Homo sapiens: one gene and its partner. The protein of the gene in region 2 purifies or fractionates together with the protein of the main gene of each other region. This does not show direct contact. Each region holds a gene or a part of one and is shown on either strand. Other genes may lie near its edges. The genes, in order: FGF13 and CACTIN.

The links.
Region 1: the proteins of CACTIN (region 2) and FGF13 purify together in Homo sapiens (co-immunoprecipitation; one large-scale study listed by IntAct). This does not show direct contact.

The regions. Positions count from the first base shown.
Region 1 is NC_000023.11:138,704,995-138,708,814, forward strand, and holds part of FGF13 (fibroblast growth factor 13), read right to left. Parts: intron 1-3,820. UniProt on the Homo sapiens protein: Microtubule-binding protein which directly binds tubulin and is involved in both polymerization and stabilization of microtubules.
Region 2 is NC_000019.10:3,609,840-3,613,482, forward strand, and holds the end of CACTIN (splicing factor Cactin), read right to left. Parts: coding exon 3,625-3,643; exon of another isoform or gene 3,527-3,624; coding exon 3,219-3,526; exon of another isoform or gene 2,946-3,218; intron 2,575-2,945; coding exon 2,084-2,574; 3' UTR 806-2,083; downstream 1-805. UniProt on the Homo sapiens protein: Plays a role in pre-mRNA splicing by facilitating excision of a subset of introns. Required for the splicing of CDCA5/Sororin, a regulator of sister chromatid cohesion. Involved in the regulation of innate immune response.

The DNA of each region.
Region 1 (3,820 bases), on a different chromosome or scaffold from region 2:
ACTATGTTTTTGAAAAGTAAGAGACCACAATCCCATTTATATAAAAGCTCATACTTCAAAAAATCTGAGATCTAAAAAACTAAAGCAAAACTTCCAACATGGGGTTGGTTTAAAAGCCATATCACTACATACCACTTGACAACTATAATATCAGTATATGCTTGACACCTAGTTTAGTCATAGTAATAAATGACAGAGAATGATAAATGAAATTCAGAATTATTTATAGAACTTCAGTTTTTAAAATAATATTATGAACTTTCTTAGTTCTCTTAATGCAGCTTATAACAAGCACAAGAAAGAAACAGAGAGAGACTAAAAAAAACTGATTTGATTTTCACCGTGTTCTCCAATCACTCTGACTCAGGTTTTAATGAGCAATGAAATGTCTAAATTTCAAACATCAGAAAACAGAAGGAGGAATAGAAGAAAAAAACATCAGCAGTACATTCCTGTGATTATTTAATCTTGAATAATGGTATTAACTATATAGCAAAACTATGTACTTTTCACTATGTACTTTAAATTTCCATGAAGCCTGATTAAAAAACAAAAAACATCACCCCAAAATAAAAACTTGTTGAGAGTAGCGAATCTAGGGATTGACTGATCATACTACTACGATCTTTTCATTTCTTTAAACATTCAAGATAGATCATAAACCGGGTTTGTTTAAAATATGTCTAAAGGGACAGTCTGCCCAGATAAAAATGCAAAGAAATTATATCAGGGGTGAGCTTAAACCAAATAAATATCCTCCTATGTGCTTTTGTTTCTCTATATCTGGTACCTTTCCTCATGGATTTAATATATTATTTTGATCAGGATAAAAATACTATAAACATGAGAAGAAAACAGTTGACTTCATTTATGGATTTAAAACACATTCATTAAATACCTAAAATCTCTTCTTCCATTTCAGTGAAAGTTTTGAAGAAGCTTTTAAAACATAAATGTGCCTGTGTTTCTTGTTTGTTCTCTGTTATGTCTGCATAAAAACAAACACCTTCTATTTGAAGGGCCACTTAATCAGAGCCATGTACCTAGTTGGCACCCAGTGTTTGCTGAAGGCAACACTGAAGCCATGCTTCTTCATCAGTTGGCCAAGGTCAATTTCTCAAAAGAGAATAATTAATGAAAGTATATATTAACGTAGGTTGGAAAGGCAACATGTTGAACTGATAATGCTACCGTGAGTTTGAAGAGAAAGGGAAAACTAGTCTTTTAAAATGTCCTTCCTTGCACCCAGGGCAGACATAATAAAATTACTGCCATGGAATGTCTATCATCTTTTCCTTTTCAAGGGAAAATACATAATTTACAATGGCTGATTTCCTCATGATGAGATTTTATTGAACTGACATTTATCATTGTAATAAATCTACGTAAGGTAAGGTGAAATGCATAATATCAAACATATGTTTTCAGAAATGGATATATCTGGATAAATGTGAACTGATTTATCAGGACATTGCTTACTATGTCTGAATAAAAATAACGCAATTCAATCAAATTAAACTAAATGAGAAAATATGCTGAAAATAATGAAGGTTAATAAAAATAAGAAGAGTAAGAAAAATATAAACATAGTATCACGAATACATATTAGGGAAATATTATATACATGAGTGATAGTTGAAAAAAACAACTTGTATTCTCGTTATGCACAATTAAACAATTAATACCAATAAAACGGCTTGGTTTTAAGGAAAAAAAAAGAATACATTTGGATAGCTGGCCTTCATGATATACCAGTTTAATCATTAAACCTTCTTGTTTCATGATGGCTTATGCCCCACAATATCCTCAATGGCAAAGCTGAGCTAGCTCACTAGCTTCTGGTCACTCTTAACATCAGGAGCAGATCCAAGCTCTACTGACTTGCTATTTCTATTGAGATACTTTCCATTTGTATGCATCAGGTTATGACAATACTTACCTTTAGTTGACTTACCTCTCTATTTTAATCTGCCTAAATACAGATTCCTGTTATCAGGCTATGTTCTTTAATGGTCTTTCAATATCATTAGTAGTACACAGAAATGCCATGCGTATCAGTCAGTTATAAGACAACCAAAGGCAGAAGCTATGCATATGTAGGAACTGAAGAGTAAAACCTACTGTATGATTTAAAGCTCCACAGTAAGAAATGGAGCCTTGATATATGCGTGTGTGGTGTGTGTGTGTGTATCTCTTAAAATGATTACTTAGAATGTGATCTCGATGAATTTGGTATATTGCTGTTCATAGGACACAGCACATGAATTATCTACTTTTTTTTTATTTCTTTTCAGGAAACACATGTGAACACCAGATCCAAAATATTTCTTCTCTGATTTGTACCCGGAGATGTTAAAAAGGGGAAAGAAACGTGACTGGATAGGCTCACTGGCAGCTAATCATGAACTTGCCTTCAATAATGCTCAACAGACCCATTTTCCTGAGGCACTCTGGAAAGCAGGGCAGCTTACATCCCCTAATTCCTTCCCCAAATATCAATTTGCACAATAACTTATGGGAATGTTTTATTGCAGATGATCACTATACACTAATGTCTGTTATTTGATTACAGTAAAGCCCTCTAGTTACACTTGCCTAATAGTTTCAAATAGAAGACTATGCATAAAAGAACAACTAGGATTTACTATAAAACTTTAATATCACAACAGTGACATAGAACTTTTGCAAAACAGTGAAGAACCATTCAGTATGAGGTTTTTTCATCCTCCATACCAACAAAGCTTTCTTCAATGGTAATTAAAAGTGACTTCCTCTCGAGGTTATAGATCGGCCATCAGCCCACGAAGCATTCCTAAAAGGTGGGAAACTCTTTACACTTATTGAGACCCTCGTCAATGGCATTGCTGTAGCCATACAACTCTTAAAAAGCTGCAGAGTATACTGCTTAGCATTCAGACCTAGTTTCCTTGGTTATTTTCTCAGCCGACAATTGGAATATTAATGCGAAATTATCAAAGGGTTTGAGAGAAATTCAGTAGAAATTGGAGAAAACAAAAAAAATTGTGAGAACTAAGTGTTTTAGCCTTGTGGAACATTTAGTAAGTCTCCAGAAATCTGTAAATTGCAAGAAAACATCAATCATCATTGAGGAGAAGCCTGCACTATTTGTGAGTTTATATTTTTATTACTCCTAATAAATAAAACATGTAATTAAAGGTTACGTAACATCTTGGAATCACCTTCTTTCAGTAATTGGAAATAAAACCTAATTATTTTTTATGTGTTTCTTTTTTAGGCTCACCATTATAGTCTCCAATTTGGTCTGAAACCATGGTTAAAAAGAAAGAACTAAAAGAAATCCCTTTACCCACCTGCGGAGGTATCTCAATGTTAAAATTCCACTAGTCTCAGAGTTATCAGTGTGTGTGTGGAGCAGGGAGCAGAAGTGAAAGCTTGTAATGATGAATTTTCATGGTATGAAACCACTCCTCTCTCTTGGGTTAAGACCGGTTCTTAAGAGTAGAGATAACATGCTATTTCTGGATCAGTGTGTGGGTGAGTAAATTTTCTGTGGGAAAAAAGTAATAAAATCCAAAGGATAGCCATAAATCTATCTAGATTTCCATGGAGATGACATTTGGATTATTCTTCAGATGGTGTCAACATTATTTGCCCTAGTTTACTATCTTAGACAGACTCATATTCAACTTCCTTTAGGTTAACCTGTGTAAACAGGATTATGTAGTGTGAATATATTTTGCATTTAATTCAGGATTTAGGAAAGCGTATTTATTTTTAAAATAAATAAAAACAGAATGTTAACAACATGCTGGCATATACTATTTATTTTGCAGTCACT
Region 2 (3,643 bases):
CGGACTCAGCCCTGCCCCAGCAGCCTGTCCTGATCGGCGGTGGAGCTGGCCAGGAACCCAGGCAAGAGGCTGCCCAGAGGATTCTAAGATGGCTCTGGCCATCTGCCATCAACTTGTGATGTCTGCTGAAGGCTGGGCTGGGGATGGCAGTGTTGTGTGTGCTGCAATGCGATTTGGGATTCTGGAGTAGGCTGGTCAGGGTGGGCCAGGGTCTGCGGTGTGGAGAGCGGACGCTGATCAGATGCACTTCCCTGGCCAGTTCCCAAGCCCTGTGCCACAGACTTCCGGGATCCTGTTAGAGGTGGGGGCTGGGAGGTGACCAGTGCCCCAGGGGAGTGCAGGATCTGCCTTGCACCTCTGCCTACTGCAGTGAGGACATTTGGGGAGGCTCATCCTGGGCACTGAAGCACATTGGGCAGCATCCCTGGCCTCCACTCACTCCACGCCAGGAGCAGCCCCAAGGTGGGACCACCACGAATGCCCCCAGGCATGGCCAAGCGCTGCCCCCATGAGAGCCTGGGCCCAGGCCAGCAGCTGTGTCCACCCTTGTACCCTCCCTCCTGTCGTCTGGGAAATGGACTGTCACCCCCACTGTGGGAGGCAAGGCAGAGGGGTGGGGGGCAAAGACAGATCCGGGCACTAACACAGCTCCCAAGGGACCACCGGGCCCCAGTTGGGTGCCGTGTTGTTTCCCAGGCTCTTCCCTTGGGACAAATGCGCTGTGTCACAAATGCCAGCAGCAACTAGGGCAGCGGGTGTGGGGCGTCGGACACGTTACACTCTCTGCATTTCTGCAAACCTAAGATTATTCTAAAATACAACGTTTATTAAAAAAACATGCGATCTTGCCAATAGGCCAATTCCATGAGAACAAAAGATTTTTTTTCCCACCTACAAGTCTTTTTAGAGAAACAAACGGAACTATTTCCAGATGAGGCGGGGTGTCTGGGAGGGGCTGTGGGTGGTCTGGGGCTGGTGACTGGTGAGGTTGGGTGGCCCTCTGGGGGTCCGGGAGGCACTTTCCGTTTTGCTTCTGTTGGAGATGTTCCCGTCGGATGCTGAAGAACAAGCCTGCCGGCTGGGCCACTCCGACCTGGGCTGTGGCACCCGTGTGGCCCTCGGCCCTCCTGGCCTGAGAAAGGGGAGTGAGAAGGAGCCACTGTCCTGATATGGGCAAAACTCGGGGTCACTGGTCTCATGCTCCAAGGCCCCGTGAGCAGGCCAGGTGGGGGGATCCCTGGGGGAAGCCCCTCACCCTTCTCCAACCCCCAGCCTTCGGGGAGCCCCTGCCCTCCAGGCCCTGTGCTCAGAGGTGGGGGGAGGACGGCTCAGTGACTTTTGGTTCCCACGACCTTGACAGAGACAGGGACCTCGACGCATCCTCCATACCCGCTGCGGGGAAATGGACCCCACCAGCCAGCACGGGGTGAGTTGGGGGCCAGTCCCTGCAGAGTGTGGGTGTCCACAGAGGGTCTCTTCTGCAGTGGCGGATCGGGCGCCAGCAGGGTCCCGGCCTCAGTGCTGCCTGTGCGGGCGAGGGTGGCCTGTGGGCAGGGCTGGAGCTGCCCCACAGCCGCGGGCTCTGCCTCACGCCCAGTGGGTGCCCCGTGATGTGGCAGGGCTGGCCTTGAGTTTCCTGCTTCTCACGAGCCTGGCACCGCCAAGCCCAGGCCCCTCTGGCCCATCTCCACAACACCCTGTGTGGCCGCCACTTGGGGCAGGCCCTGTGGGCCCCACCCAGCCTGGCTGAGGGGCGGTGGAGAGTGTCCGCCTGGACGGTGAGGTCAGCTGGCGGCTGCTGGCCACCCTCGTGCTCGAAAGATGCCCCTAGCGCCCCCTCCGTTGCATCAGGACCCTAGGCCAGCCTGTCCCAGTGTCTCCTCAGCTCACCATGGCAGGCTCAATGGTGACCCCCCTTTTATATAGGAGGAAACTGAGGCCTGGCGAAAGAAAGATGCGGCCTGAGGTGGGACGTGAACCCGCGGCCCTGCAGCCCAGACAGCGGCCCCGGAGTGACCACCAGCTTCACCGAAGCCCCTTTACTGTGCCCCCGAGGACACCTGCCTGCCGTTCCCCAGGGCCGTCACCGCCGATAGCGGTAGCGCTTGAAGTGAAACCACAGCTGGAAGATGCCGTTGGCAAACTGGCAGCGGAAGCCGTGGCGGTGCGAGTATTCCCACTCGCGGTTGACGATCTTGAAAGCGATGTCCTCGTAGGGCGGCCCCGCGTGGAAGCGCAGGATGGCGAAATCCTTGTTGTCGGCGCAGGCCTCCAGGAAGTACTCGGGCGTGGAGCGCTTGTCGATGAGGTCGGGGTAGAAGATGTTGAACTTGTATCCCTGCACGATCTTGGGCGGTGGGTTGTCAAAGTCGTAGTGCGTCTGGTTGTACTTGTTCCACTCGAAGCCCGTGTGCACGCGGTTGAAGAAGCGCGGCTTGCGTGGCCGGTACTTGTCGGCCCACAGGTAGGCCTTGCCGGTGAGTGGCATCTCCACGCTGAACTGCGCCTCGTCCTGGCCCATGCCCTCCTTGGCCCGCCGGAAGAAGATGTCCTCGGCGCTCTCGCTGGCGTCTCCTGCGGGCGGGACGGCGTTCACCCGGGCCTCGGCCTCCCCCTGGGTCCTGGCCTCCCTCCTAGCCTCTCTGGCAGGGGCGGCCGCTGGTGCCTCCCGCAAAAGGAAAACAGGCTGGGGCGAGCTAAGGCACATGGGGAGGGGACAGGGCCTGGGCGACCCGGAGACCCACACCATCCGCCCCGAGCCCCGGACCTTGGTCTTCATGTCTATCGTCCTCCTGGGTGGGGACCAAGCGCAGCGCGCTTCCCCGCCGAGCGACAGGAGAACCTGGTGGTTAGGGCCTGGCTGCGGGATCCAGCCCCACGCATGACCCCCGAGGGGGTCCTGGCCCAGGGGTTTTCTGAAGCCAGTATTTTCTCCTCTGTCTTAGGACGGAGGCTGCCCAGGGAGTGCTCGGACAGCGGCCGGTAAAAGCTTCCACCACCTGTGGCCCCAAGGCCAGTGGGCCAGCAAGCCCAGGATGAATGAAGGAACGCCCCAGTGCGCGTGCAGGTGACGGAATGCACGCTCAGAGACCCGGGGGAGAAGCAGCAAGCAGCTCCCCACTGACGCCAGCGGCTTCGGCCGGGAAATGAGGCTGGAGAAGCCCCGCCCCCAGCTCGCCCCACTGGCCCCACCCCCTGGCCTCCAGCCCCGCCCTTACCCGTGACCTGGAGCTGCTGGCGCGAGAGCTGCAGGCGCTGCAGGTCCTCATCCGGTTCCAGCACGTGCGCGTCCAGTGGCAGCTCGTGCGCCGTGAGCAGCCGCGGGCTGTACCTGCCGGCGTCGTAGTCGTCCAGGCTCTGCTGGATCAGGTCCTCCTCCATGAGCACCGCCTCGCCCTCGCCCTCGCCCTCACCGTCCCCGTCGCCGTCGCCCTCTGTCGGGGTCGCGCCGTCCACCTCGGCCTCCGCGGGGCCGCCCTCCGAGGAGGGCCCGGGCGGGGTGGGCGCCGCGTCCTCAGGCTCCAGGCTGGGAGGAGAGAGCGTTGGAGGCGCGGAGGCTGCCCACGGCCCCTCCATCCTGCTCCGCGTCTGCATCGGCGTCCCCGGGGTGCCGGCCGGGCCTACCTGCGGCTGGGGGACTGGG